3 linked regions of the Homo sapiens genome follow. The protein of the gene in region 3 interacts with the protein of the main gene of each other region in a pairwise test. Each region holds a gene or a part of one and is shown on either strand. Other genes may lie near its edges.

The links.
Region 1: the proteins of SLMAP (region 3) and STK4 interact in binary tests that used the Homo sapiens proteins (3 or more experiments, as listed by UniProt).
Region 2: the proteins of SLMAP (region 3) and STK3 interact in binary tests that used the Homo sapiens proteins (3 or more experiments, as listed by UniProt).

What each region holds. Positions count from the first base shown.
Region 1 is NC_000020.11:44,967,734-44,978,118, reverse strand, and holds part of STK4 (serine/threonine-protein kinase 4), read right to left. Parts: exon of another isoform or gene 7,514-10,385; intron 6,042-7,513; coding exon 5,961-6,041; exon of another isoform or gene 5,199-5,960; intron 4,837-5,198; exon of another isoform or gene 4,686-4,836; intron 4,020-4,685; exon of another isoform or gene 2,786-4,019; coding exon of another isoform or gene 2,709-2,785; exon of another isoform or gene 2,707-2,708; coding exon of another isoform or gene 2,678-2,706; exon of another isoform or gene 2,435-2,677; intron 1-2,434. UniProt on the Homo sapiens protein: Stress-activated, pro-apoptotic kinase which, following caspase-cleavage, enters the nucleus and induces chromatin condensation followed by internucleosomal DNA fragmentation.
Region 2 is NC_000008.11:98,701,447-98,711,831, forward strand, and holds part of STK3 (serine/threonine-protein kinase 3), read right to left. Parts: intron 5,866-10,385; coding exon 5,701-5,865; intron 5,189-5,700; coding exon 5,021-5,188; intron 1-5,020. UniProt on the Homo sapiens protein: Stress-activated, pro-apoptotic kinase which, following caspase-cleavage, enters the nucleus and induces chromatin condensation followed by internucleosomal DNA fragmentation.
Region 3 is NC_000003.12:57,757,190-57,767,574, reverse strand, and holds part of SLMAP (sarcolemmal membrane-associated protein), read right to left. Parts: 5' UTR 9,924-10,385; coding exon 9,726-9,923; intron 1-9,725. UniProt on the Homo sapiens protein: Associates with the striatin-interacting phosphatase and kinase (STRIPAK) core complex, forming the extended (SIKE1:SLMAP)STRIPAK complex.

The sequences.
Region 1 (10,385 bases), on a different chromosome or scaffold from region 3:
ATGAGATGACTATCCCTATTTTACAGGTAAATGTAAAAAGGTTCAAAGGGGTTTATGATTTGCCCAAGGTCACATAAGTTATCAGTCCAGGATTTGAAACCAGTTGTGTTATCAGTCCAGGATTTGAACCCGGGTGTGTCTGAAAACAAAGCTTACGTTGTCTCCCCATCTATACTGGGGTACAATATGGAAGTGGCAGTCTTTGTTTTATTGTATTCACTCTAGTACCACAAGATCTTTCTGTCCTTGCTCCTCTTACTTACAATAATACTTAAAATATTATGGAAACTAATTAAAATCTAAGCCTGTTTAATATTAGTATCAGGTAAACACAGCACACACACTCTTTGCTTCCTACTCCATCTTCCCTTAACAGCTTAATATCAAAATAAAGTTTGTGTATCTAGTCAATTTGGAGGCTACAGATCCACTAGATTTTGAAAGTAAAGAAGCTGGATTTGAGTCCTACCAACACTACATTTAGCTATCATTTACACCTTATTAACCTTGTTGTACCTGAATTTTCTCATCTGTAAAATGACAATAATACAAACTACCTTACAAGATGTGATGGTATCTCATTTGTGATGGTCAAATGAGATACCATCATCACTTTATACAGATAACATTTTCATTGGAATCCTGGGCAGCTGTCAGTGAAATAATACTGAGTAAACTGTCTTTCATATTTCCCAACACATCTGTATCTTCACACTGTCTTGGTGAAAAAAAAAATCAAAATAGCAGTGCCACCTACTATGTCAAAGTACAATACTCTAACTGCCAAATAGATGCTCATGAACTGTTTCAATGTGAAAGTAACATAAAACTTTTTAAGTCTATGCAGAGCACATAAAAATATTTCCATTCCATTAGAAGCTGTCATACTTGCAAAACTAGCATAATCATCCTTAAATATTACACCAAATACTTTTTGCCAGAGAGAGGCAACTGTTGAGCATGTGTCCCTTCTTCCTTGCTAAAATAACTTCCTAATTTGTTACAGTGGTGATGTGCTTCGTCCCAGGAGATATACCATGGTAGTCCAAGCCACTCACAGAATTCCTATTCCCTTCTGCCAGTGACTGAACTAGTGGCAAACATGTCGCCCAGTTCTGGCCACTGAAATTTGAAGATAATTCTGCTGAAAGGTTTCTGGGAAAGACTTTCTTCCCTGGTAGGAGACAAGCACACAAGAAGGCCCATTTCCACCTGCCACTTCCCTTCTTTCTTTGGTTACTGCCATGTGAGGGATGATGCTTGAAACTAATGCAGCCATTTGAGACTACGAGAATTACCCAGATGTCAAACCATTGTCAAGCCAATTAACGGCTTCTCGAATCTCACACCCCCAGATGTATTATTTAGTTCTTAATGTCTTTATTGGTTAGCCACTGTTTGTTGGGTATTGTTACTTCCATCCAAAGGCATTCTTGATAAATTAGCTCCTGTATGTCTGAAACTGTCTTTATTTCACCTCCACTCTAGAATGATAGTTTGGTTGGATACCGGATTGACAACAGCTTTCCCTCAGCACTGTTGTTGCAGTGTTCCAACATCGACTGTGGCTGAGAAGTCAGCTTTTATCAGATTATCATTTTCCATGGGTAATCTCCCCATAGTTTTTAAGGTTTCCTTTGTCCTTAACAGTCTACTATTCTACTGTAATGTAACTAGGAGTTGATCTGGCACTTCATAAACTTCTTCAATCTGAGGGCTCGTGTCTTTCCTCAAGAATGAAAAACTCTCAGGATTATTATGTGATTATTTCCTCTACCACTTCTAGGATCTTCTTTTAGAATTCCTACCAAAACTGTATTAGACCTCCTCAATCTATGTTGTCTTCCTGGTTTCCAACACTGTATTTCTGCATGTTGTGATCAGTCTCATTTCTATCTTTCAATTCACAAATTCTCCTTTCAGTTTGTCTAGTTTACTGTTTATCCAATTTATTGGGCTTTTAAAACTTCAATTGTTGTAGTTTTCATTGTCAAGATTCCCAACTTTTTATCTGCCTTTGGGCAAATATGTTAATAATCATGTCAATAATCTGATGTCCTTTTAAAAATGTTATCTCCTCCTTGATCTTTTTGAAAATTGTAATTATATTAAATTGTTTTTGAGATTGCTTCATTATTTCTTTTTCCTTCAGTGTGAATTCTCCCATTCTGCTGATTATCTCATGGCAGTAGATTTCCTTGCATGGATTTCATTTTCTCTTGAATGATTTTCCTCTATACCACACTCACTGTCGATGATTTCATGGTTTTCTCAGTACAGTAGTCTGGGATATACAACTTAAACCAGGTCTTATATTCAGAGTTTGGGGTTTTTGCCCTTCAAGATACCATACTTAAATACAATCCAAGCTCAGTTCCTATTATCGAACCAGTATATCCATTTTTTCCCTAGGCCACAGGCAAATGACACTTTCTGGTTGTGGTCAGGCAAATTTATTTCAGCTTTAGTTCACAGATGGAGAGCCGAGTTCCAGCCCCCAACTTCATGCAGGAAGCTCAAATGCAATCTCCTGACAAGGATAAGGCATGCTTTAGTCTCCGCTGATTATTTAGATTTCTTTCCTATCCCTTGTCCATAGCTGTCTATATATCCTTATATTTAAAATAATTTTCACTCATTATTCTTATATATTAGAAAGTTCTCTTCATACACTCACTCAGCAATCTTGACCAGAACACTCTTCATACCTCCCTATGCATCCTGATAGCAAGGAAAACTCCAATAGCTCACATGAAGTTAAGATTCCTGATTCCATATACTGCATCTACAGTAATCTGAAGGCAGGGATAGGGGGTGGTTAGAAGATTTCAGCAATCATACTCACAAGCAAGTCCCTTAAAACTTGATTCCCTACAACAAAATGAGATGATTCAATGAATTACAACTGACAGCAGAGAATGGAGAAGTAGGTGTTTTACATAAGCCATGCAAGGCAAGGATCTATGTAGAAAAATGGAAATACCACAGTATCTGAGGCCAAATTAATCAGATACAAGTCTTAACAATAGCACTCATTTTTTATGAAACCATGGGCAAGATGCTTTTGTTATCATTCTATGATAAAAATTCAAATGAGTCAATGTGTACAACTTTAAGTAGAAGAAAAAAGGTGCTAGGCTCCACTTGAAAACACTTCCCAAGTGCTCTCCACTCATCCTGGTCTGGAGCTTTGGCTCTACTCTGCCACAGATCCATATGATCCTCATAACACAGAATGATTGCAGCCTCCAGAATCCAACAGTTTTTTTAGCCATAGCTCATTTCACAAGATACAAGTCAGTGAGAGTTCACAAACCATTCATCCTCCCGAACAATTTAAGAATAGCATTGGCCAGGCGTGGTGGCTCACATCTGTAATTCCAGCAATTTGGGAGGCTGAGGCAGGCAGATCACAAGATCACGAGATCAAGACCATCCTGGCCAATATGGTGAAACCCCATCTCTACTAAAATACAAAAAATAAGTCGGGCGTGGTGGTGTGTGCCTATAGTCCCAGCTACTCAGGAGGCTGAGGCAGGGGAATCGCTTGAACCTGGGAGGCGGAGGTTGCAGTGAGCCGAGATTGTGACATTGCACTCCAGCCTGGTGACAGAGCAAGACTTAATCTCAAAAAAAAAGAATAGCATTGTGTCACATGTTTGGAAAAGAAGTGCAGTGAAGGTCTTCCTTCAAAATATTCCTAGTTAAATGAGGCTTGCTTAGGTTCATTCAGTCAGAATAACAGAAATCCAAGAAATACCAGAAATCTGGTATTATTTAGAAGAACAATAAGGTGATAGTATGGGAAGAAAGATCTGAAGCTTTGTTTTCTCCCTGGTGATATCTTCATAGGGAAATTTCCACATTCCTTGCAGAAGACATCCATAGATCTAAAACGCAATTTGTCCAGGTGCAGTGGTTCACGTCTCTAATCCTAGCACTTTGGGAGGCTGAGGCAGGAGGATCACTTAAGGCCAAGAGTTCAAGACCAGCCTGGGCAACACAGTGAGACCTCGTCTCTACAAAAATAAATAAACAAACAAATAAATAAAATACAATTTAAAAAATCATAATTAGCTTATTTTTTGTTTACATTATATTTCTGATATATTCTCTGTCTATAGTCTTCCTTTGACATTCCACAAACCCAATCAGCTCAGAGCTACCTATAACAACACCTAAAAATACTTTAAGACTTGACATGATGAGGTCTTGAAAATGCTTCAGTTGATACATTTAAAATAGAATAGCAATAGTTGCCACTTACTGAACATTTATTATTGTGATAAGCACTATACTTTACCCCAATTACCTCAGGTAATAACACAACTCTATGAATTGATATATTATTATCCCAACTTTACAGATGAGGATTGTGAGCCTCCAAAATAGTAAGCAATTTGCTTAAGCCCACTTGTCTATTATGACCAGTAAACAGTAGAGCAAGGATTTTAACCCAGGTCAGCCTCACATTGTAGTAGTAAGAGCAAACTGTATTAGAAATGAGAGAAATAAGTTACATAGTCAATTATGCCTATCAGTCTTGAACTTATTCTAAGTATAACTTATGAGCATTGTTAGATTAAAGGTCACAGCCTTGCTGCCTTAGGGAAAATAGCAAGGATGGCAAGCTAAAGCTGAAAATGGCAGGCAACAGATGTAGAGGGACTGTCATTTCCCCATACCTTTAATGATGCCAGTCAACTGGCAGTCTTCAGATTCATCTTGGACTTGTCTTTTCACAGCACAGCTGGTGTGTCATTTTTACTTCCCTTCTCTGCTTGATTTCTTGCTGGATTCCAAAGAGTATTTTTCCAACTTACAAAAAGACGATGACTCATGTTTTTTACAAGGAGGTAAATCATAAAAAAACCATTTCATGTAATCCAGGATTGGGTTTAACGTTGTAAATCTGTCTCCTAACATAAAAAATACTAAACCCAAAAAATAATCTAATGACATAAAGGAAATTATTTTAAAGAGCATATAGTCATCAGTCAGTAGTTGTTTTTACAAGTTAGTATGTCAGGTCTTCCCTTGATCCAGAAATACTCCCAAGGGATTAAAAATACAGACACACACACACACAAACACGAGTGTGCGCTCGCACACACATAGCCTGTCTCTGAAAGACACACAAGAAGCCGCTACCCTTGGTGATTCTGGGTGGCTAAGAGACAGAGAGAGGTAGGAGGCAGTTTTTTTTTTTTTTTATTGTATGCGTCTTAATATTTTTTTAAATTTTGAATCATATGATTGTATCGCCTATTCAAAAATTAACAAGAAAAACTTAAGAAATGGTGTCATTAACATTTTAATTTCCTGGTCATTACAGAAGAAGGAATAAATACACAGGATTGAATTAAAATGATATATAAAAGTATAAAAATTATGTAAACTTAATTGTATCATGAAAGTCAATGATGGTCACTGCACATTACTAATATCATTTCATCAGTATTTTATAAACGCATTAACAAATCTGTGTTTCAGGAAATCCACTGGCTCCCAACCCAGGATTGTGGATCTCCTAAGTAGCTGTGAAGGTGGTGATAGTGCTTAATTTATTTACTATATTTCACAAAGGTGCAAATATTAAAATACTAAATTACATTGATTTTCATTGAAACAGTTATTGCATACCAATCAGAAATTATGAACAGCAAATTAAAAAGTTTCTTATAGAATTTTAATCTAATTAGTGCTATCTGTTAAGTAGATAAAATCATACAGATCCTACAAAAGAGAAAACAATAGATATTCTTCGTGTTAAAAAGACCAGGAATCACTAAATCTGTCTATAATAGGGATTGGAGTAAAGCGAAGAAGGACATCACAAGCTGTAAATTTACCTTCCACCCCACCTAGAACAATGCTGAAAGGTTCATATCCTTCTGCTTCTTCTGGGGCAGGAAAAAGACTGGGACCCAATGACCTACCTATAGTTTCTTTACACTCACCCTTCTCCAAGTTTCTCTAAGACATCAAATACTTCTTCTGGTTGTTTGGTTAAACTATCTTCATCCAACTTTTTCAGCTGCCTGTGAATAAAGAAATATAAACACAAAATACATTTTATTTGCTAGGAACTAGAACATAAAATATATCTTTTTTTTATAATTAGCATCTCAGGAACTTCTCTATACAGACTTCACTAGTTAAGACTGTTTTAAGAAACAAGGTTTCTTGGGAGGCCGATACAGGCAGATCACGAGATCAGGAGATCGAGACCATCCTGGCTAACATGGTGAAACCCCGTCTCCACTAAAAATACAAAAAAATTAGCTGGGCGTGGTAACGCATGCCTGTAATCCCAGCTACTCAGGACGCTGAAGCATAAGAATGGCGTGAACCCAGGAGGCAGAGTTTGCAGTGAACCGAAATTGCGCCACTACGCTCAAGCTTGGGTGACAGAGAGAGACTGTCTCAAAAAAAAAAAAAAAAAAAAAAAAAGTCATGTGGCTGAAATGCTGTAGATTCAAGCATTCGATGTATCCTTCAAAATCTATTTAAATCTTGAGATTTCATGAATTAAAATGATGTAATTATCTCTTCAGAAAAGGTGTTTAATGTAAGGTAACTATGAATTGAAACATAACTATGAATTGGACTGCAGACTAAGGAAGACACGGGAAACCTTTGCTCTTCCATTAGCAAGTTTTTTGTAAGTTTGTCAAAACACATAAATTCTGTAGGTATCACAGAAACAGAAAGTGGAAAGTGTACATTTAGATATGATCAAAAGTGAAAAATCACTAGGCAGCTGTGAGTTTCAGATATTCTCACAAAGACCTTCCTATGAGTAGATACATACCTTTGACTAGTCCCAAAAATCAAAGGTACTTGGCTGCTCACAATTTCCAGATAATTCAGATTTCTGACTATGCTAGACAATCATAACAAACATGGGAGGTTATAAATTAACATTTTTTTAAAACTCTGAGATCTCTGAAAATTACTAATGAGCTTAAAGAAGGAACTTGCCAAGGAATATGTGTGTGTGTGTGTGTGTGTGTGTGTGTGTGTGTGTGTGTGTAGTCTACACAATGGCTTCCTGAAACTACAAAGAACAACAAAGAATAGAGAGCTGAGGAAACGGTGAAATATGGAAGTAGTCACACTGGAGACCTCTTTGTAGAAAAAAAAAGGTTTAGACTAGCTGGATAATATCAATTATTACAACAAAAGACTTAAATACACACACATACACACACACACACACACACACAAATGTGTACCTTCCTAAATAAAACAGATTAAAATTAGAAGACAAAAAATAAAACAAACCAACAAAAACCCTGACCACATCAAGTGTATCTACCAATAAACACTGATCTCAGAAGGACAATCTTATAGTTTATGAATATCAAGGACTATAAACTAGAGAAATGGAGAACTGCTCCAAGTCAAAACTGCCTTAACTTGATATCAACAGAACAAAATGATCACAGTGACCTTTGAAAATCAAAAGGTCCTAAAAATTAAATACCAATGACATCATAAAAACTCCTACCTTCAAAATGAAAAGGGATGAAGTGAAACTCCTCTTAAACTTCAGAACTGAAACTTCTATAAACTCAGAAGTCAGAACGAACATCTCATATGCCAGGGTTTTTTTGGTAAAGTCCTGAATTGTAATTGTATAAACATTGGACAATACCTCACTTCTCAAGTATAATCAAAGTTGTATAAACAGCTTATACAAAGGAAGATCAAGTATGTTTCTTTGAAGTGTTGACTCTCTGTGGTTTACAAAATGCAAAAGTCACTATTTCAACTACTTCAGGGACCACAGCATAACAAAGGAAATTGCCACTGCCTTGAGATAGACAGCTGCAAACCTCTGATAATACTTTGACAAACTTTTTTTTTCTTTTTTTTTAATTATTATTATACTTTAAGTTTTAGGGTACATGTGCACAATGTGCAGGTTAGTTACATATGTATACATGTGCCATGCTGGTGTGCTGCACCCATTAACTCGTCATTTAGCATATGACGGCTCGAATACATCTTTGAAACAATCTAAGTGCTTTTTTGTTTGTTTTTGATCCGGGGCTATTAAAAACAACTTGAACTTAAGGCGCTATTACATCTCTGGTGCCTGATAACCAAGAGGTGGTCAAAATATATTTGTGAAATGGATTCACAAATGTAATGATGGGAATCACGAATTTCATCAGCAATCTTTGAATTATCACAATAAAACAGAATTTCACCTAAGAAGTATTACTGAATTATCAACATTTCTATAAAAATATTTTGATAAGTGATTCATAATAATATTTTATACCATGACTCTTCACAGAAAAAACACTATTACCAAAACAGCCTGACTCTGATAATACAGTTCTCTTATCTGGGACTTCCCCAGGTTCCAGACGGTTTCAGCACTTGCTCATAAATGAACAAGCCTGATCAACAGAGCATCCATGGACCAAATACTGGTGGATGCTCCTCTCCTAAGTCAGATGGCCATGTGGATGGCCAGCATCCCAGGAATGCACTCTACGCCTTCCACTATAACATTAATCTAATGGCAACTCATTTTTTAAAATTATTAACTCCTATATGAGACACCAATCTGTCATCACTTAATCACACACACACACAAATGTCAAACTCACGAACACAAAGGGCATTTCCTGCACTGGGGTTATTGGAAACACATGCCATCTGAATTTCTGAAAAGACACCTGTATCTTTCCAAACACAAGTAATGGTGTCTATGAAGTAGTCACTTACAGGTCTGGCTAATTCTCAAAGCTTTCTCCCATTTCAGAACTCCCATAAAGTTCATTTTATGTGTAACTATTTCTTTTTCCACACAGAATTTGATATGGATTACAACAACTATACATGATAAATGGACAAAATCTTACATAATAAAACTGTGTCCCCAGCTTACCCCAATTCATATGCTGAAGTCCTAATACCCACCACCTAAGAATGTGACTGTATTTGGAGACAAGGCCTTTAAAGAGGTAATTAAGATAAAATGAGGTCATATGGGCATGCCCTAATCCAGTATGACTGGTGTCCTTATAAGAGGAGATTAGGACACTGACAGGTACAGAAGGAAGAACATGGAGACACAGGGAGATGGCCATCTACGAGTCAAGCAAAGGCGTCAAAAGAAACAACTCTGACAATGCCTTGATTTCAGATCTCTAGCCTTCAGAACAGTGAGAGAATAAATTTACGTTGCTTAAACCACCCACTCCATGACACTTTGTCTTGTCCTGATAAACTGATACACGTGATAATAAAATTGATCTGCTTCAAATTAGGCAATCTACTAGTTACAATGAGCTGGGAATCACCAGCCACTTCAGAACCCAGTCCTGCAATGCTCTTCTCTTGTGCTTTTAATACATTTTTTAAAATCCAAAAGGTACAGGAATGAGCATGCCAAGAAACTTTAGTCCTTTGCTCAAGATTATGTAAGACAAGGCAAAGGGGGAAACAAAACTCAGATTCCTAATCCTCTTTTCAATTAAACCAAGGCCTCGGAGAAAGAAACCAAGAAGAACGAACGAACATAGTTCAGAAAGAAACATAACTAGTGTGCATTCATAATTGGATCACTATGGTACTATAGTAAATATCTGCTAACATACACAGAGACCTGTGAAACAGGGGTACTTTTAGAGAGGCATCAGAGTGAGGCAGTTAAGAGCATGGCCGGGCCCGGTGGCTCACGCCTGTAATCCCACCACTTTGAGAAGCCAAGGTGGGCGGATCACGAGGTCAGGAGATAGAGACCATCCTGGCTAACACGGTGAAACCCCGTCTCTACTAAAACTACAAAAAATTAGCCAGGCGTGGTGGCACGCACCTGTGGTCCCAGTTACACAGGAGGCTGAGGCAGGAGAATCGCTTGAACCCAGAAGGCGGAAGTAGCAGTGAGCCGAGATTGCGCCACTGCACTTCAGACTGGGCGACAGAGTGAGACTCCGTCTCAAAAAAAAAAAAAGAACATGGACTTTGGACCAGACCCCATAGACATTAAAATCCTAGCTCTGTCTCTTACTTGCTATGACTTCTCCCAGCAAATCACTACCCTCTGTATCTCAGTTTTATCATCTGTAAAACAGACATATAGGGATATCTACCACACAGGATTGTTGTGAGGTTCAAATGAGTTCAAATGAGGTTTTTATGGTTCAAAAATGGTCAAATATCAGCAATTTCATATGCTTCAGCAGGACACATGGAAAGCACTTAGAACAGTGCCTGGCACCCGGTAAGTGCAATATGAGTGTAATAATCATTACTATTACAGTCTCAGCACACTACGCTAGGGTGAATCCAAAGCCCATCCCAACCACCTATTTGCCTTCTGCAATGTTTGTGCACCTCAAACATCCCCAAGCTCAAACAAC
Region 2 (10,385 bases), on a different chromosome or scaffold from region 3:
GTCACTACTAAAAATACAAAAAATTAGCTTGGCATGGTGGTGCGCACTTGTAATCCCAGCTACTTGGGAGACTGAGCTGAGACAGGAGAATCGCTTGAAACCGGGAGGCAGAGGTTGCAGCAAGCCAAGACTGCCACCGTACTCCAGCCCAGACAACAGAGCGAGACTTTGTCTCAAAAAAAAATATATATATATATATATCTATACACACACATATATATACACACACACACTCACACACACACACTCTCTCTCTCTCACACTCACTTCCTAAAGGCCTGAGAAAAAGAGAAGACTGATCTCCTCAAAAGTATGTGGTTAACTGAATTCAAAACTAAATTTTTTTAACTATTCTATTTATCTAACTGATCAAAATTAATTTGGTGGTTTCATATTTAACTTTATAAAATAAACTGAGTTTTAATTTAAAAAAATTTGTTTCACTTAACATTCTGATTAGACTTACTCCCATTTGCCACTACTCACTAATTTTAATCTCATAGCTGAATATAAATTTATAAGCACTTTTATCCCTCTCCTGTTTAAAAGCTTTATATGTTTCAATGTGTACATCATCATTTCCCTTTACTAAACAGATAATCATTACTGTCTACCACAGTGAAGATTCGGTTTACATATACTACAAGTTTCTTTGGGGGGAAGAAAAAGTTGTATGGAAACTAACAAATTTGGTTAACTCCTTGCCATCAAACAAATCCAGTGTTTTTAATAGTTCTTCTTATTAGAAAATTTCTCCTTGAACATCTATATTCCAAATATTCCTTATTCTGCCCAGGAATGATAAAAGAAATAATCAATCTCTGACAAACTGATAAACTAAAGCATATAAAACAAATGACCTCAGACTTAACACCTTTGAAAGACCCATTCTCAAATAACTGCAAATTTCCAATTTAACCACTTTCATTTTCTAATTTAGTGCCATCTTTAAGTTCTTCGTATCCCTCAGACTATGACACCCTAAATATATGTCCTACAAAAACCTTAATCAGTGAAAAACAGTATTAATTTGTGGCCACTTAAGGAGAAGCAACTCCATTCTAAATTATCCAAGCTCAAGGCATCTCTTTTTGCCCCTAATTTTTGCTGGCCTAAGCAATACTACTTTACAAACAGGCCTGGTACCTAAACACGGTAAAAGGCTGAGAAAATGACTGGGAAACCAAATCCCAGTTCACTCAGTCTACAAGGCAGCACCACTGTTCTGGAGTGTTCCTAATTATATACAGCTAGTGGGCAGGCATAGTGGAAAGGGCTAGAACTCTGTGAGGATGAATGCAAGGCATTTCAGAAAGACTGGCTAGAATCCTCACTCCAATTAGGCAATACCACCAGTGGCTGGGCACCCCACTATAGATGGAGGCTGGGGAAACTCACCCACCACATCCTAACTTTGTCTCTAACTTTGTTCTAGATAGCCATGTATATGTAGTAAATTGTATCATTTACTTATATTAAAATAACTATCAGGTTTTTTGCCTGTTATCAGCTGTGGGGTCTTCATGTCAATCACATCTTTGTCTCATTGTGGCAACTTTGTAGATTATTGATTACCTCATTAGCCTATATGTCTACCAAAACATGGCTGGAAAACAAAACTTTAAAAATTGAAATCTTACCTAGGTTACCATATTTCCTGCTACTCTGGAAAACTTAGAGGGTTCAGATTTTAAATCAGTAATTATAATATTGTGATTACATGGTTTTAAAATGTCTTATTTTTGTTAGCCGCTCCTCCACTTGCACTGAGTTGGGATATTAACACAGAGGATATTTCTTTGGTGTCTAGGCAAAAACACAGAACAAACTGAGTTCATATCTCAGTTCTGCCACTGACAAGTTATGTCATCTTAAATAACATAATCTTATCCATTTCATCCAATCCACCCAATGGAGGATAAAATATTTATTTCACAAAATTACTACAGTACAAAAAAAAATGTTGGTAAAAAACTTCAATATTTCACTCACTTACCATAGTGTCATATCCTACCAGCTTTCTCATATCTTAACTACCACTTTATCTCCTCTCTAACCTCCTGAGATTCTGATTTAATCTGTTTAGGGTAGGGCTCCCCACATGACGGCTATGCAGCAAGCATGGAGAACACTACCTATTCTTTGATCACCCCATTTCCTTACACTCTCTCTTTTCTTTCCAGACTGTGCCCTGTTAGTAACCCCTTGAACTGTCTCTCAGCAGCATCCTTAAATTCCCTATAGCCCCATCCTTCTAAGACACTCATTCATTAAAACCCAAACCCTCCATATCAAGGCCATAATGCATTCTACTGCACAGCAGAGCACACTACCATAGGAAGGCCCACAAACCAGGATTAATTACACTATACTTTCCCAATTACCAATTTTAGCTGGGCCCTCAACAATTTTTCTCTCTTGGACAGCTCTTTCTTTCATTGCCCTCACTATACCCCCCACAAAACTACTGTAAACCTTGATGAAACAGTAAAGTTTATTAATTCTATTAAATTTCTACACTTGAATATGTATTTTTAATATTCTACATTGACAAAATGGAAAATATGCATAAAGCACTTCCCCACATATCAAAGAACAACAATAATCTGAAAAAAAGCAGTTGTGTGACTGAGCTGCAAGCTAAATAAACTACAAGGCTCTTTTCAAAGAACATCATTTTTACTTGAAGAATAACTAACAGAAAACTAAGGTTACACAGACTTGGGTATTTGACAGACATTTTCTCAAAAAGGAACCAAGTGAACCTGTCATTTCAAGGAAAACAAAAGGCAGTACTTGTTACCAGTGATAAAACTATCTGTTACATGATCTCAACAGCTTCCAATACTTGCAGTTCAATACTCTACTTTGTAAGACAGCTCACAAACACAAGAAAAGTTAAATAATGATATTATTTAAATAGGAAATAAACTATATTATGTTTGGAAATGCACGAGGCAACACTTGATTAACTGTCCAAAGAACTGGACTGTGAAGAAATTGCCTATATACAAAATATGAGGAAAAAGAGAAATTTACTTGGGCGATAGCTGTCAAGAATGGCTCTACACAGGCATAAAATCCAAGTTGGGACTTGAAAAACTGGTAGGATTTAGATTTAAAAAAAAAAAAACAGTGAGCAAGGCATCCTAGGAAGTTTGCAATACAGGTATATTTTTTTCTAAAAGAAATATTATTTTCAGGTATATTTTTAATAATGTATAATGTATTCATTCAAACTCTCAGGTAATATTAGAAGATCCTTAAAGGAAGAGGCCACATATTACAATTCTCTGCTATCTGAGCACAGGATCAAATTTAACATGTTGAACTATTTGGTTGGAAAAATAAGATTTACACAGGGAAGAAGCAGAATAGTAATAATGGAAGTCCTAAGTTAAATCCCAGCTCTTGTACTTACCTAGGTTGCCTTGGGTAATTTAGTAAACCTCACTGATTCAAACTCAAATACACCTACTTTGAGGATCACCCTACAAACATCCTAACTAAAAGAACCACAGATAACTAATGATCAGAGATGAAATAAGACTTTGTGTTCCTGTTTTTATGCTGACCTTGTTGTTTTTCAAGTTATTTTCAAACAATTGATGCATTTTTATCTTTCATTTACCAAAAGGAATTTATATACACCAGGAAGATGATACATATTGTATACAATTACATTACTCAAAGAACTCTAGGCTGGGCACACTGCTGTAATCCCAGCACTTTGGGAAGCTGAGGTGGGCGGATCGCTTGAGCCCAGAAGTTGGAGACCAGCCTGGGCAACATGGCGACACCTTGTCTCTACAAAAAATTAGTTGGGCATGGTGGTGCATACCTATAGTCCCAGCTACTCTGCAGGCTGAGGTGGGAGGATCACCTGAGCCCAGGAGGTCGAGGCTCGAGTGAGCCATGATCGCACTACTACAATCCAGGCTGGGTGACAGAGTGAGACCTTATCTCAAAAGAAAAAAAAAAAAAACTCTCTTTAAAATGTTTCAATACAGCAGACAGATTTTTAAATATTTTCTGTATAATACACTGTTACCTATATTATCGAAATTTAACCCACAATGGCATTATAATATCAGATGTAATTCCAATTTATTCTTCTTCAGATATTCTAAAATATCTGAATTTTTATGCATTCTTCCTCTTTCTATCTATTTACTTCACATTCCTCCAGCCACCATGATATTATCTTCTCTTTTCTACAAATACACACATACATACACTCCTCCCCTCATTCCTACATCCTTATTGAGATAACTACAGCCACTAGAGGGCAATAAGTATACAAAGATCAGTGTACCTATTTATGATGATGAACTTATCTATATGATTCACATAGTAATAAACCTAAAAAGTATATCATCACAAACCCTGAAACACAGGCAATTAGACTTGAATATGCAAAATATATATTTCAAACTCAAAAATTATCCTGCAGAGTTCACAGAAGCATATAATGATGTTCAAAAAAGGAATTCCATTTTCTCAGCATGCATTCATTAAAAAAAATTAGCCGAATTCCTTTATATGTGCATAGTAATATTAGAAATTAGGATTGCTTAATACCATCCTCAGACCAAAGAAGAGAAAAGGCAGAAAAAAAAAAACACACAGTAAGGTATAAATCACAGAGTGGGTAAAAAAGTGAGAAATGATTACTTCCAACTCTTTCACTACCACAATCAAGAAAACAATAAACTGAAGAGCAAAGAGGATTTACCAACCCTTTCTTCTATTGAAAAGCAAGCAAAAATTTTACAAGTATATTTTTGGGGGAGGAGAACAGTGATGGTAGAGATATACAAAGCCTTCAGTTCTTTTCTCACAATTAAGAATGCAGAAGGAAGAGAAGTTAACAGTTACTAATCTTTAAGAGGTAATTTTACCATTTTTAAAAAGAATACATTTAAATGAACTTATTTAGTTTATATTTACTTACATTGACATTACAAAACGGCAACACTTATATAAGGCTAACATTTTCAGCAAACCATAATTTTCTTACCCTCATTGGATGTATATCAGCATAAGGAGGTTTTCCTTCAGCCATTTCTATAGAAGTAATGCCAAGGGACCAGATGTCGGCCACACAGTTATAGCCTATTTCTTGAATCACCTCAGGAGCCATCCAAAATGGAGTTCCTATTACAGTATTGCGTTTTGCCATTGTATCCTGCAATAATGTTACATAGCCATAAATGCTACTACAAAAGCACAAAGGAAATCTGTATGCCAAACATACTTTTAAAAAATGTTAAAACCTCCAATGCCACAGATTATATCAGAAATTGACTATTTTGCTAAAATTTCAACTAGTTATGACATACTTAGGAATTCCGAATTCTGAAAATAACCAAGAGTCCACAGGTAACTTATCCACACTACCATCATTAAACACAGTCATTAAAGATAGTGCTACAATGATAAAAGCTACAGAAATGAGCTACGTAGCTTCCCTTTTAGAACATTTAAGCATTTTGATTATAAGATATATTTTCACATTCAATCACCCTAAATTATAAATTAAATAATACTCAAATTTGGCTCAATTATGGTTCCTTCTCCACAAAAATTAAAAAACTACACATTTCTTTCCATTCCCCCTCAAAAAGTAATTGAAGTTTAGTTATAATCAAATCTGAACAAATTAGCCAAGTGTTTAGAAAACCATTAAAGTTAACTTACTGTTAACTGACCAGCCACTCCAAAATCTGCCAATTTTGCATGTCCTTCTGTATTGAGGAGAATATTTCCAGCTTTTATATCTCTGTGTATTTTTCTCATAAAGTGCAAATATTCTAGTCCTTTCAATGTAGATTTAAGAATGGTTGCAATTTCATCTTCTATTAACTGGAAAGAAATATTTTTAAAACCATAATTAAAATGCCACGTTAGATAAAATCTTACGAAAGAGCACTAGTAACAAGTATGTCTTTCCGTGTGTGTGTGTGTGTTTTTTTTTAAGAGACCCCACTCTGTTGCCCAGGCTACAGTGCAGTGGTGTGATGATAGCTCACTGCAGCCTAAAATTCCTGGGCTCAAGGCATGCTCCCACCTCAGCTTCCCGAGTAGCTAGAACTACAGGCACATGCCAACCCAATAGGCTAACTTATTTTTATTTTTGTAGAGATGGGGATCTCGCTATGTTGCCCGGGCTGGTCTTGAACTCTTTGCTTCAAACAATTCTCCTTCCTCAGCTTCCCAAAGTGTTGGGATTATAGGTGTGAGCCACCATGCCTAGCCACAAGTACTTCTTTCTAATGACCGCTAAACCTCCAGGAAAATGCTAAAGGGGTAAATAATCGAGAACCTCTTCTTCCCACAATAAGCTTTCTTATTACACATTTTACTAATGAAAGGATGATCAAATTTCTCTCTTTAAGATTATCAGTATCAGCAGGGCGTGGTGGCTCACACCTGTAATCCCAGCACTTTGGGAGGCTGAGGCGAGCAGATCACTTGAGGTCAGGAGTTCAAAACCAGCCTGGCCCACATGGTGAAACCTCGTCTCTACTAAAAATACAAAAATTAGCCAGGCGTGATGGCGTGCACTTGTAATCCCAGCTACTCAGGAGGCTGAGGCAGGAGAGTCACTTGAACCTGGGAGGCAGAGGTTGCAGTGAGCTGAGATCACATCACTGCATGCCAGCCTGGGCGACACAGCGAGACTCCATCTCAAAAAAAAAAAAAAATTATCAGTATCATTCCTAAAGCAAACAACATATCTCAAGAATCAGCCTGATATAAGGAATCATAATAGTGATTTCCCACATCTTCTAATACTGGGAGGGCACTATCACAGCTAATATCTGTTCTGAAAAAGTAAATTCAGATACTTCCCCTGAGATATTTCAGATTCTTGATGAAAATGAAACCAACAGCTTTACATAAAGGAAAGTAAATGAGGGAGGGAGGCTTGCAATGAATCTTCTGCGAGAAGCTCCTACACCAATGCCACTCCTAACCCTTCCAAGTTCTGGACTTCTGACCTAATATTGAGAACTCAGAAGAAAAAACGTCAGAGAAAGATTAGGAAAATGGAAACACAAGCAAAGACTATCAGAGGAGGGAAAAAGGGGAGAGTAGAGAAGGCCGAGGAAGAGACGGATGGGAAAGAAAGAAAATCTTCTTAACAGTTGTAGCAGTAGAGCCACTGCTATCTGTACCAGGCAATGTGCTAAGAGTTATGCATGCATTCTCTCATTTATTCTTAAAACAACCTTGTAAGGTAGTGTGATATTATGAAATCACAGGAAATATTTGGTCTTTGTAGGTTCTTGGCACAAAATCTCCTAAGACCCTGTGAATTGACTGAGTGAGTGAGAAGTTGAATCAAGATATTTTATCTTTGTTTTCTCACCCTCTCACAAGAGTGAGAGGGGCTGTCTTTTGTCATTCATAATAAGCTCCTTTCAACCATACCAGAATTTATACTGATCAGGTGACTCTTGGTGGGAGCCTAGATAGCTTCAGGATGGGAGCTGGTTGCCGAAAAAACCAACCAAGTGATTAGATGTTTGGAAATTTCTGCCTGACCCCTGACTTACGGGAGGGCTGCAAGGAGAGAGGGGGTAGAGATTTAGTTAAGCACAAATGTCCAAAGACTTAATCAATCATGCCTATGTAACAGAATCAACCATAAAAATTCTAAATGATTAGGGACTGCTCTCAAGCTTATATTCTATCTATAAGCAACGGGATAATTTGATAGAAAATAGGATAACACAGGAAAATGTCTGTGAAAATTGCTATGAGGACAACAATAGAGAGCTACTGATAGAGAACGACTGAGAAGCTACTTTAGATTGACATTCAAGAAGGCCCAAAAGACATTTTACTGAAGTCTAAATGATATAATGGGGCCAACCATGTGAATGGCTATCTGGGAACATACACTCCACAAAAAGGAAAAAAAAAGATTAAAATATCTTGATTCAACTTCTCAAATTTTCTAAAACACTGAAGAAAAGAGAACACTTCCACACTCATTTTAAGAGGCATTATTCTGATATCAAAGCCAGACAAAGTTACCACAAAACAACTAAGACCAATATCCCTTATGAACATTGATACAAAAATCCTCAACAAAATATAGCACACTCACTTCAACAGGATTGTAACAGGTTATACACTATGACCAACTGGAATGTATTCCTGGAATGCAAGGTTGATTCAACATACAAAATCGAACAATGCAATACACCACCTTAACAGAATGGAGAAGAAACCACATGATCATTTCAAATGAAAACAGAAAAAGCATTTGATTAAATTTAACTTCTTTTCATAAAACACACAACTAATATGAATAGAAGGAAACTATCTCACCATAGTAAAAGCCATATACAAAAAACCCAAAGTAAATGTCATACTCAAAGCAGTAAGACTGAAAGCTTTTCCACAAAGATCAGGAACAATGAAAGGATGCTATTAGGTTGGTGCAAAAGTAATCGCAGTTTTTGCCATTTTTTTTTTAAAGTAATGGCAAAAACCGAAATTACTTTTGCACCAGCCTAATACTTCTGTTACATATAGTACTGGAGGTTCTAGACAGAGCAATTAGGGAAGAAAAACAAATAAAGGCATCCAAACTGGAAAAAAAGAAGTAAAATTATCTCTGTTCACAGATGATATGATCATATATGTAGAAAATTCTAAAGATTCCACAAAAAAAACCTATTAGAACTAATAAATAGGGATGGAGACAAGACGGCTGAATAGGAACAGCTCCAGTCTAAAGCTCCCAGCGTGAGCATTGCAGAAGACACATGATTTCTGCATTTCCAACTGAGGTACCAGATTCATCTCACTGGGGAGTATCGGAAAGTGGGTGCAAGACAGTGGGTACAGTGCACTGAGCATGAGCTGAAGCAGGGCGGGGCATCACCTCACCTGGGAAGTGCAAGGGGTCAGGGAATTCCCTTTCCTAGTCAAAGAAAGGGGTGACAGATGGCACCTGGAAAATCAGGTCACTCCCACCCTAATACTGTGCTTTTCCAATGGTCTTAGCAAACGGCACACCAGGAGATTATATCCCGCGCCTGGCTTGGAGGGTCCTACACCCATGGAGCCTCGCTCACTGCTAGCACAACAGTGTGAGATCAAACTGCAATGCGGCAGCGAGGCTGGGGGAGGGGCGCCTGCCATTGCCCAGGCTTGAGTAGGTAAACAAAGCAGCCAGGAAGCTCAAACTGGGTGCAGCCCACCACAGCTCAAGGAGGCTGGCCTACCTCTGTAGACTCCACCTCTGGGGGCAGGGCATAGCCAAACAAGGCAGCAGAAACGTCTGCAGACTTAAATGTCCCTGTCTGACATCTTTGAAGAGAGTAGTGGTTCTCCCAGCACACAGCTGGAGATCTGAGAACAGACAGACTGCCTCCTCAAGTGGGTCACTGACCCCCAAGTAGCCTAACTGGGAGGCAGCCCCAAGTAGGGGCAGACTGACACCTCACACAGCCCGGTACTCCTCTGAGACAAAACTTCCAGAGGAACGATCAGGCAGCAACATTTGCTGTTCACCAATATCCACTGTTCTGCAGCCTCCATTGCTCATACCCAGGCAAACAGAGTCTGGAGTGGACCTCCAGCAAACTCCAACAGACCTGCAGCTGAGGGTCCTGACAGAAGGAAAACTAACAAACAGAAAGGACATCCACACCAAAACCCCATCTGTACATCACCATCATCAAAGACCAAAGGTAGATAAAACCACAAAGATGCAGAAAAAACAGAGCAGAAAAACTGGAAACTCTAAAAATAAGAGTGCCTCTCCTCCTCCAAAGGAACACAGCTCCTCACCAGCAATGGAACAAAGCTAGACAGAGAGTGACTTTGACAAGCTGAGAGAAGAAGGCTTCTGATGATCGAACTACTCCGAGCTAAAGGAGAAGTACGAACCCAGGCAAAGAAGTTAAAAACCTTGAAAAAAAAATTAGACAAATGGCTAACTAGAATAACCAATGCAGAGAAGTCCTTAAAGGACCTGATGGAGCTGAAAACCAAGGCACGAGAACTACGTGACAAATGCACAAGCCTCAGTAGCCGATTCAATCAACTGGAAGAAAGGGTATCAGTGATGGAAGATCAAATGAATGAAATGAAGTGAGAAGAGAAGTTTAGAGAAAAAAGAATAAAAAGAAATGAACAAAGCCTCCAAGAAATATGGGACTAGGTGAAAAGACCAAATCTATGTCTGATTGGTGTACCTGAAAGTGATGGGGAGAATGAAACCAAGTTGGAAAACACTCCGCAGGATATCATCCAGGAGAACTTCCTCAACCTACCAAGGCAGGCTACCATTGAAATTCAGGAAATACAGAGAACGCCACAAAGATACTCCTCAAGAAGAGCAACTCCAAGACACATAATTG
Region 3 (10,385 bases):
AGTTCATATATATAATTTCATATCACCAATCACAAGATTTGGATCTACGATCCAAAAACACTTAGCAAAATGTTTTGCAAACTGCAAGCTCTCAATAAATAATGACTTATACAAAGACTACATATTGATAATTGAGTCCATGATCTCAAATTGAGAACTAACTTGAATGACTTTCTGCCCTTTAACACTGCACAGGTTTGCAGAAATACAAACCGCTCCATTGTTCACATTTCCCTCATTCAAACATGAATGTAGTGCCTATTCTCTTGCTCTCAAGAGTTCACATCTGATGGGACAGTAGTACATTTGCATCATAGTTATTTTGTTGTTTATGTCCCATAATGAAATTATATACAGGCCGGGTGCAGTGGCTCACACCTGTAATCCCAGCACTTTGGGAGGCTGAGGCAGGTGGATTGCTTGAGGCCAGGAGTTCGAGATCAGCCTGGGCAACATGGTGAAATCCCATCTCTACTAAAAATACAAAAATTAGCCAGGTGTGCTGGGGGGTGCCTGTCATCCCAGCTACTTGAGAGGCTGAGGCAGGAGAACTGCTTGAACCCATGAGGTGGAGGCTGCAGTAAGCCAAGATCACACCACTACACTCTAGCCTGGGTGACAGAGAGGGACCCTGTCTCAAAAATAAAAATAAAAATAAATTTAAAAAAAAGAAATAAAGAAATTATACACAAAGTTAAATGGAAGTATAGAGGAAGAAGCAATTAATTCTTCAGTTAAAGGGAGTCAGGGAAGGTTTCACATTGGAACTGAGCCTTAAGGGATGACAAGAAGAGGTCATTCTAGAAGACAAAACAGCAAAAAAAGGCACTTGTTCTAGAAACAGTGAACACTGTCATACAGCTAGTACACAAAGTTTGGGGTGAAGAAAAAACAGTAATAAAAGAGAGAGCTAGAAAAAAAGAAAATAAGATATAGATTTTAATGCTAAAAATTAATGAGGCAACGTCAAAGATTTTTAAGCAAAGGTGTAACTATTTATCTACCTATATAGTGTCAGTAAGAGAAGCATGTACCTGAGAAGAGGAAAGAGTCTGGACTGTAAACTTAGAACGTTTCAGCCGCTAATAAATGCCACCATTTTTCTTGATTCAAGTAACTATGAAGTAACTGACATATATTAAGAGTTAACTTCACAATCTTTTCACTTAAAACTCTAAATGACATTCTCTTCCCTACTTACCAAAAAGAATAAATACTAAGCTCTAGCAGAAATATCACTTAAGAAAACCAGACAGGTAGACTGGGTGTGGTGGCTCACGCCTGTAATCCCAGCACTTTGGGAGGCTGAGGCAGGCGGATCACGAGGTCAGGAAATCGAGACCATCCTGGCTAACACGGTGAAACCCTGTCTCTACTAAAAATACAAAAAAAAAAAAAAAAAAAAAAAATTAGCCGGGTGTGGTGGTAGGCGCCTGTAGTCCCAGCTACTCAGGAGGCTGAGACAGGAGAATGGCGTGAACCCGGGAGGCGGAGCTTACAATGAGCCGAGATCGCGCCACTGTATTCCAGCCTGGGCAACAGAGCAAGACTCCGTCTCAAAAAAAAAAAAAAAAGAAAGAAAATCAGACAGAAGCCTAAAAGGGCAAAGAGTGAATTTAACCTAAGGAGTAATGTCAAAGAACTAAGTGGGAAAAAAAATGCTTTAAGTATATACACTGTCGATATTTTTAACAATTTGAAATCACAGATAAAATATTTTATCAATTTCCCACTATTATGAAAAATAATATAGAGGGAAATGAACATGTGCTTTAAAGATATAATCTGGCTTCCTATACATGTTCACATTATGTGTCTTAAATACAACTTGTCAAGTAAAAGACTTTCTCACAAACACCAGCACCCCTTAATGATCTTTATACTTCTGTCAACAAAAAACTTAAGTATCTGTTAAAACAAACATACAAACAAATAAAAAGTAAAAGAATGTATGACCTGCCATTCTCCCAAAAGCTGAGGCTAGGATCTTTGTGGTCATGTTTAGATGTGTGGAGGAAAAAAGAAGAAACAATCTTGGTTGTCAAATTCAGCAGGCTCTTCACAATGTCTTCCTTACAATGTCCTTGGAACATGCCGTATCATCCCTGCTTCTTCCTCCCACCCAAAACTCCTTTCCCTGACTGACCCTAACTACAATCTATCCCTTAACCCCATATTTTTTTTTAAGATGGGTCTCACTATGTCACCCAGGCTAGAGCAATCATAGTGCACTATAGCCTTGAACTCCTGGCCTAAGTGATCCTCCTGTTTCATCCTCCCAAATAGGTGGGGCTACAGACCTGATGCACCCCTGGCAAATACAAGTTTTTGAACTTTTTGTTTTTTAGAGACAAATTATTGCTATGATGCAAAGGCTGCAGTGCAGTGGATTTTCACAGGTGCAATTTTGGCATACTACAGCCTCAAACTCCTGGCCTCAAGCAATCTTCCAGACTCAGCCTCCCAAGTAGCTGATATTACAGGCATTTGCCACTGTTCCTGGCCATTCTTCCTCTTTTTAAAAGTCCTAAGGTCTAGTTTAAATTGGATTTCATCCATGAAACTGTTTCATCCATTAAACTTTCCCTAAAGTCTTCAGTTCACACAGGACCTTGCGCTTTGCCGAAGTCCTAATGTGCAAGTTAATTTAATACTCTTATCTTTTTTCATTTTCTGGCATTTAATCATTTTCATTCCTACTGTTAACCTGGTCTATGCCCTCACAAAATCACATCATATCTAAAGTGTTATAAAGCCTTTAGAATAGCACAGTGGTTATGAGCTTGAGTTTAAATCTCAATTCTACCATTTAATAGCTAGGTGAACTTGACCAAGATCTCTCTGTGCCTCAATTTCCTCACAGGTCAATGCAGAAAAAACAAGCACCTCAAAGAGTTACTTGAAGATTAAATAAGTTAACAAGTAAAGCATTTAGAATAGGGCCCAGTATATAGTTAGTACAAAAGTGTTATTTAAGCTGTTACCCATTTTTCCTTGCTCCAGGCAACTCTACATACTGCTATTGTATCACTATTGTATCACTCTTTCTTTCTTTTCTTTTCTTTTTTTTTTTGAGATGCAGTCTCCCTCTGTTGCCCATGTTGGAGTGCAAAGATGGGATCTCTGCTCACTGCAACCTCCGCTTCCTGGGTTCAAGTGATTATCCTGCCTCAGCCTCACAAGTAGCTGGGATTTCAGGTTCATGCCACCACACTTGGTTAATTTTTGTATTTTTCGTAGAGGTGGGGTTTCACCATGTTGGCCAGGCTGGTCTCAAACTCCTGACCTCAGGTGATCCACCCATCTCGGCCTCCCAAAGTGCTGGGATTACAGGTGTGAGCCACCGCACCCGGCCCACTCTTTCTTAAACAGGGGTTTGGTATGTCAGTGCTCTGCTCAGAACTCTCGTAGGCCTTCCATAACCCAAGGGTCCACATCCTAAGCTTGGTAAGCAAGGCACTTCACAACCTGGCACCACACTATCTAGTCAGCTTCATTTATTCAACAACTACTTTATACAAGATAGTAGGAAAACGTTCCTGTCTTCCAGAGTGTGAAAATTAATTACAAAGACAAGGCACAAACAAGAACATCACACAGAATAGATGTGCACCCTTGGCTACTCTTCAAAGAACTCTCTAATCCAACAAAGTCAGTTTCCTCAGCATTTGGAAAATGCAAAGCTCATTCAAAATTATCTGCTTTTTATTCCATCCTCATCCCCACAAAAAAAATAAAAATAACCAAAAAAACACCTTTTCTTATCTATCCACCCCTAATTTTAAAGTCAAATGTCATTATTCTTTTGCCATTGAAACTTACATAATATCACCTATCTCAACTATTTTCAAAGTGCACTGTCACCCTCTCTATCCAATGTAAAAGTTCCTAGAAAGAAGAAATAACAAATCCTCATCAGTTTGTCATTTTCTCCCCCTTTACCACTATGCCCTTCACTAAAACAAATCATGATAGAACAGGTGCTCAAAAAGATGCACTAGGCCGGGCGCGGTGGCTCACACCTGTAATCCTAACTCTTTAGGAGGCCGGGGCGGGTGGATTGCCTAAGCTCAGGAGTTCGAGACCAGCTTGTGCAACATGGTGAAACCCCGTTTCTACTAAAATAAAAAACAGTAGCTGGGCGTGGTAGTGTGTGCCTATAATCCCAGCTACTCAGGAAGCTGAGACAAGAGAATTGCTTGAACCCAGGAGGCAGAGGTTGCAGTGAGCCGAGATCACACCATTGCACTCCAGCCTGAGTGACAGAGCGAGACTCCATCTCAAAAAAAAAAAAAAAGATGCACTAAGTTTAAATTAAACGTGAGACTAGAAGTAGACAACTACTACCACTAGTAAGTAAACTTCAGTGAAACTGGAAATAGACTACTATGTCAACCACTAGCATGTCACCGGTACCCCAAAGCCTCAAATCAAATAGGGCCATCCAAATCACAAGAGTTCACTCACTATCCTTTCTATGTAACCACTATATGGGTAGATCTGCTTGCTCAGTGGTGCCTTGAATCAACAGAGGAATTAATAACCATTCTAGGCTGGGCACCGTGGCTCACACTTGTAATCCTAGCACTTTGGGAGGCCGAGGCAGGCAGATCACCTGAGGTCAGGAGTTCATGACCAGCGTGGCCAAATGGTGAAACCCTGTCTCTACTAAAAATACAAAAAATTAGCCAGGCATCTGGGCATGGTGGCTCATGCCTGTAATCCCAGCTACTTGGGAAGCTGAGGCAGAAGAATCACTTGAACCCAGGAGGGAGAGGTTGCAGTGAGCCGAGATTGCGCCACTGCACTCCAGCCTGGGAGACAGGGCAAGACTCCGGCTCAAAAAAAAAAAAAAAAAAAAAAACCATTCTACTATCTGCCATCTAATTTGAAGAGCTTGACTTCCGAAAAGGATGAAGGATAATACACAGGGCCAGCATCCAACAAGGCAATATCCAACTGCTACATTACTGAGAAGATGATTTGGTAAAGATTATGAAACTCTGCTTTGTGCCAAACCTGTCACCCTTCAACATGCAGATTTAAGTATTATACAATAAGATATTCCATGAGCTTAGCATTAAAAAGTGTCACTTAGATTTCCACCTGCCTACATTTTGCAGATATTCTAAAATGAACATGTATCATTTGAATAATCATAAAGTTTCAAGTGTTTATTATTTCTTCCAACTTTTTTTTTTTTTTTGAGACAGAGTCTCACATTGTCACCCAGGCTGGAGTGCAGTGGCGCGATCTCAGCTCACTGCAACCTCCGCCTCCCGGGTTCAAGCAATTCTCCTGCCTCAGCCTTCCCGAGTAGCTGGGATTGCAGGCACATGCCACCATGCCCAGCTAATTTTTTGTATTTTTCGTAGAGACAGGGTTTCACCGTGTTAGCCAGGATGATCTCGATCTCCTAACCTCGTGATCCGTCTGCCTCAGCCTCCCCAAGTGCTGGATTACAGGCATGAGCCACCAAGCCTGGCCTATTTCTTCCAACTTTTTTTTTTTTTTTTTTTTTGAGACGGAGTCTCGCTCTGTCGCCCAGGCCGGACTGCGGACTGCAGTGGCGCAATCTCGGCTCACTGCAAGCTCCGCTTCCCGGGTTCACGCCATTCTCCTGCCTCAGCCTCCCGAGTAGCTGGGACTACAGGCGCCCGCCACCGCGCCCGGCTAATTTTTTGTATTTTTAGTAGAGACGGGGTTTCACCTTGTTAGCCAGGATGGTCTCGATCTCCTGACCTCATGATCCACCCGCCTCGGCCTCCCAAAGTGCTGGGATTACAGGCGTGAGCCACCGCGCCCGGCCTTCTTCCAACTTTTAATGAGCCTCCCATAATGGACAATGCAGAATGCAACAGTCACCACAAAGTGAAAGTCACCCAAAGCACATATTACCCCAATTGTCGACCGCCCAGGTAAACTGCCAATTTAGACAAAGTTATCAACTACATCAGTTTCAATTTTAAAAATTTCTTCTGGCCAAGCACAGTGGCTCATGCCTGTAATCCTAGCACTTTGGGAGGCCGAGGCAAGTGGATCACCTGAGGTCAGGAGTTTGAGACCAGCCTGGCCAACATGGTGAAACCCTGTCTCCACTAAAAATACAAAAATTAGCCAGGCATGGTGATGAATGCCTGTAATCTCAGCTACTTGAGAAGCTGAGGTAGGAGAATCTCTTGAATCCAGAAGGTATAGGTTGCAGTGAGCTGAGATCGCACCACTGCACTCCAGCCTGGGTGACAGAGCCAGACTCCGTCTCAAAAAAACAAAAAACAAAAACAAAAACAAAATTTATTCTATATATGCCATCACATTAAAGAAAATAATTTCTCATCACCTTCCTAAGACTCCATAGCACTATAGCAAATTGCACAGTGTTGTCTAAATAGTTCCCTCTTCCCCACTAAACACCCTCTCTGCTGAGTATTGGGTGCTTAGTAAGAGCCAGGGACAGGGTGCTAAGTGATTTATATAATTACCTCAATTCTCAAAACAATAATAGGTACCATTATCATCCCCAGATGTTTAAAAAAAAAAAAAAACCTGGCCGGGCGCGGTGGCTCATGCCTGTAATCCCAGCACTTTGGGAGGCTGAGGTGGGTGGATCACCTGAGGTTGGGAGTTCAAGACCAGCCTGACCAACATGGAGAAACCCTGTCTCTACTAAAAACTCAAAATTAGCCACGCGTGGTGGCGCATGCCTGTAGTCCCAGCTACTCGGGAAGCTGAGGCAGGAGAATCACTTGAACCCAGGAGGGAGAGGATGTGGTGAGCCAAGATCGCGCCATTGCACTCCAGCCTGGGCAACAAGAACGAAACTCCTTCTCTGAAGGGATTCTTTTTTTTTTTTTAAGAGACAGGGTCTTGCTTTGATACCCAGGCTGGAGTGCAGTGGCATAATCACAGCACTGCAACCTCAAACTCCTGGGCTCAAGCAACCCTCGTGCCTCAGCATCCCGAGTAGGTGGGACTACAGACACTGCAAATTTCATACGAGAACTATTTGGTCGCACTGTGGGTTTTCTTTGGAACTGTATCCCTCACAGTGTCTGGCACATAATAGATGCTCAATTAAAACCTACTATCTGTCCAAACCAAAACTTTAAATAGTTAATTCCTAAAACAATTCAATGACATGGTAAGATCTGACAGAGCATCCGCTATAACTAGATTAAGTGGTATAATAATCAATAATTACATCTATATCTAAAGTAGTGGTCTCATAGCCTGCGTGTTATTTTAGCTAATAAAGCAGGAGGAAAAAAGTGAAAATGGTAGAAATAAGCCATATCTACCATTCAAAGATAAGTTTTTCTGAAGAACTAATTTCATGGCCGGGTGTGGTGGCTTATGCCTGTAATTCCAGCACTTTGGGAGGCCGAGGAGGGTGGATCACTTGAGGTCAGGCGTTCAAGACCACCCTGGCCAACATGGTGAAACCCAGTATCTACGAAGAATATAAAAATTAGCTGGGCATGGTGGCATGCGCCTGTGATCCCAGCTACTCAGGAGGCTAAGACACAAGAATCGCTTGAACCCAGGAGGCAGACGTTGCAGTGAGCTGAGGTTGCGCCACTGCACTCTAGCCTGGCCACAGAGCGAGACTCCATCTCAAAGAAAAAAAACAAATATTAACATGTCATCTCAATTCATGAAACAGTCACTACTGACCTATTCTTAGTTATCTCAAAATAACCTATTGTGAGAGTTTTAGTACAGCCATGGAAAGCACTGGGCATGAAATCAGTATTTTTCAAATAAGTAAAACAAAAAATGGGAGTCCCCTTCGAGTGTTTCATCAAAGAAAGTGCATTCGCAGAGTATGTACTGTGAGCCAACCTGTTGTCTGATTAGTTTAGACCTGTTGCCCAAGAACATAAAATGGTGAAAATGTAAAAGCTGGTTGAGTTAAGGCACTACTTAGTAGTAAACTGATGTTTGAATTCAACTGCTGGAAAAATGAGTTCTATGAATATTCATTTTAAAGAATTATGAGGGCCAGGTGCAGTGGCTCACGCCTGTAATCCCAGCACTTTGGGAGGTTGAGGCAGGTGGATCAACTGAGGTCAGGAGTTCAAGACCGCCTGGCCAACATGGTGAAACCCTGTCTCTACTAAAAATACAAAATTAACCAGGCATGGTGGCGTGTGCCTGTAATACCAGCTACTTTGGAGGCTGAGGCAGGAGAATCACTTGAACCCGGGAGGCAGAGGTTGCAGTGATCTGAGATAGCGCCACTGCACTCCAGCCTGGGTGACAGGAGCAAAAATCTGTCTCAAAAAAAAAAAAAAAGGATTACGAGTAATCTATGAAGTATTTTAGGCACCCTAACTTCAGCTTGCGAGGAGCGAGTGAAGGGTCTGTTCCACAGGTAAATGAGGATCTGGTGTTAAACAGAAAAGTTAACATACTCTTCAGTTCTCATCCTACACGTAAAGTATAGATATTATGCAGCACACAGCACTTGGACAATCTTTTCCTCCTTTCTTTAAAAAATAATTTACAAAATAATTCCTTAAATCAGTAGCTGCCGAAGTATCATTTTTTTCTCTTCCTTTTGAGGCTCAGGTTTCTTTCATTTCAAAACATATTCTTGAAGACTTAAGTTCTTCCTTTAAGAAAGATTTAATTATTTAACTCAGAAAGAGGGGCAAAAAGTCAGGAGGTGAAACCTGAGACAGTCCTATTAGTCTTACATAACTTAAAGTTGGAACTGATTCAGTAGCTCAGCTAAAAACCTGAGGTTTAGGCACAAAGATGAGCTCTTTAGTATACTCTCCACAAACATAAATAAACAGTTTTTAAAAATGGAAAGGATCTTAATTTCTTTCTTCACTTCTTAAAATAAAAGCACATACATGTATAGTAACTTACGATACTAACATAAAAATACTAAATTGGTTACGCTTAAAATGAAAAGCACTGAATTCATCGTATCACATTTAAGTAATGCTATAATTGACAGAATAGGGTATAATTTCAGAAAGTAAGTTTATTTCCTAACACTAACTTTTGAATAGCACCTCTGTAAGTATGCATTAAGTACTTAATAAGTGCTGCAGGGAACATCAAAAAGTGATTTTCAAACGCAATATGTGTATGTTCTCCAACTTGTAAAAAAAACTCTGAAAATATATAAAGTTACAGTTGTTCATGCTTAATTAAATTAGCTTTGATTATTGCAAATTACTCCTCCAAGGGCAAGTATGTATCAAACCTTTCAAAAATCTTAGGTTTATATCAGCAATTATCCTTACTAGAAAGGTCCTGATCTGAACTCACCTAAAGCTATGTGTTAACTACATTTCACCACTAAGACACTTGAGCCCCGGGATAATAATGGCCACGGATTCCCCGAATTGCTTCGAGAACTGCTGCTTGCTTAATAAAGCGCTGAACTGTGAATTCACCTTTCTAAACAGACTAAAAGCAAGACGCCAAGTTTCACTATCTAGTTTGGGATTTCACTGGGAATGACCACGTTATCAAGATGCCATAGCCCTCCTGAGGCTTTTAATTACAATACCTTCTCTGTTTTCCATTCAACCACCTCAATCAAATTTCCACTAGAACCAGGCACACAAACAGTTGATTCGTGGCTTTGCGCAAAGCCTCCTCTGGATGCAAACCCTGGGATCCTGCATACATTAGTCCTCTCAGGGAGGGCAAAAGGGGAAAAAAAGTTTGTTAAACAATGCCGCTGGACAATGTGGTGACATTACCTTGCCCGTCTTGTGATCAAACCAGACGAGAGCGTGGTTCCTTGATAGCACTTTGCAATCAAAAGTGGCATTATTCTGCGCTGGTCGACAGCGGGCCACTGAGCGGCCGATTTTGATGGGCTCGTCCAGGTAGACATGACGCTCCTGAAACGGGTGCGAGTTCGGGCGGCAAGTGAAGATGGCCAAGGCTGACGGCATCGAGGATAGACTGGGGGTGTCTCTCCTACCAGGGACAAAGAGGAGTTCCTCCGGATCCGGACTGCCCTTCACAAGCCTATGCCCCTATCCCACCCAAAATTTTAAATTAACACAAACTGCACATTGTCTAAGCATAACCAGTGAACATCAACTCTTCACTTGGGTGGGAAGACAAGCCAGCGCAAGCCCCATCACCTCCTTTAAAACGCTGCAACGCCGTGATCACAAAAAGTCCCCAACTGGCAGCTTTCAGTCCATCTTCTTCTCTGGGAAGAAAAGGCTCAAACATCGGGCAGCTTCGGCCAAGAAAACTCCTGGAACACAGTTTGGGGACTGGAGGTATCCAAGCAGATGAGTCACACGCCAATTCTTGTGTTTGGTTTGAGATCGCGGCCGCTTTTCCCCCTTGGTGGCGGAAACGTTGCAGCACTGCAGCATGAATGAAGGGTCGGTTCGGCGCGG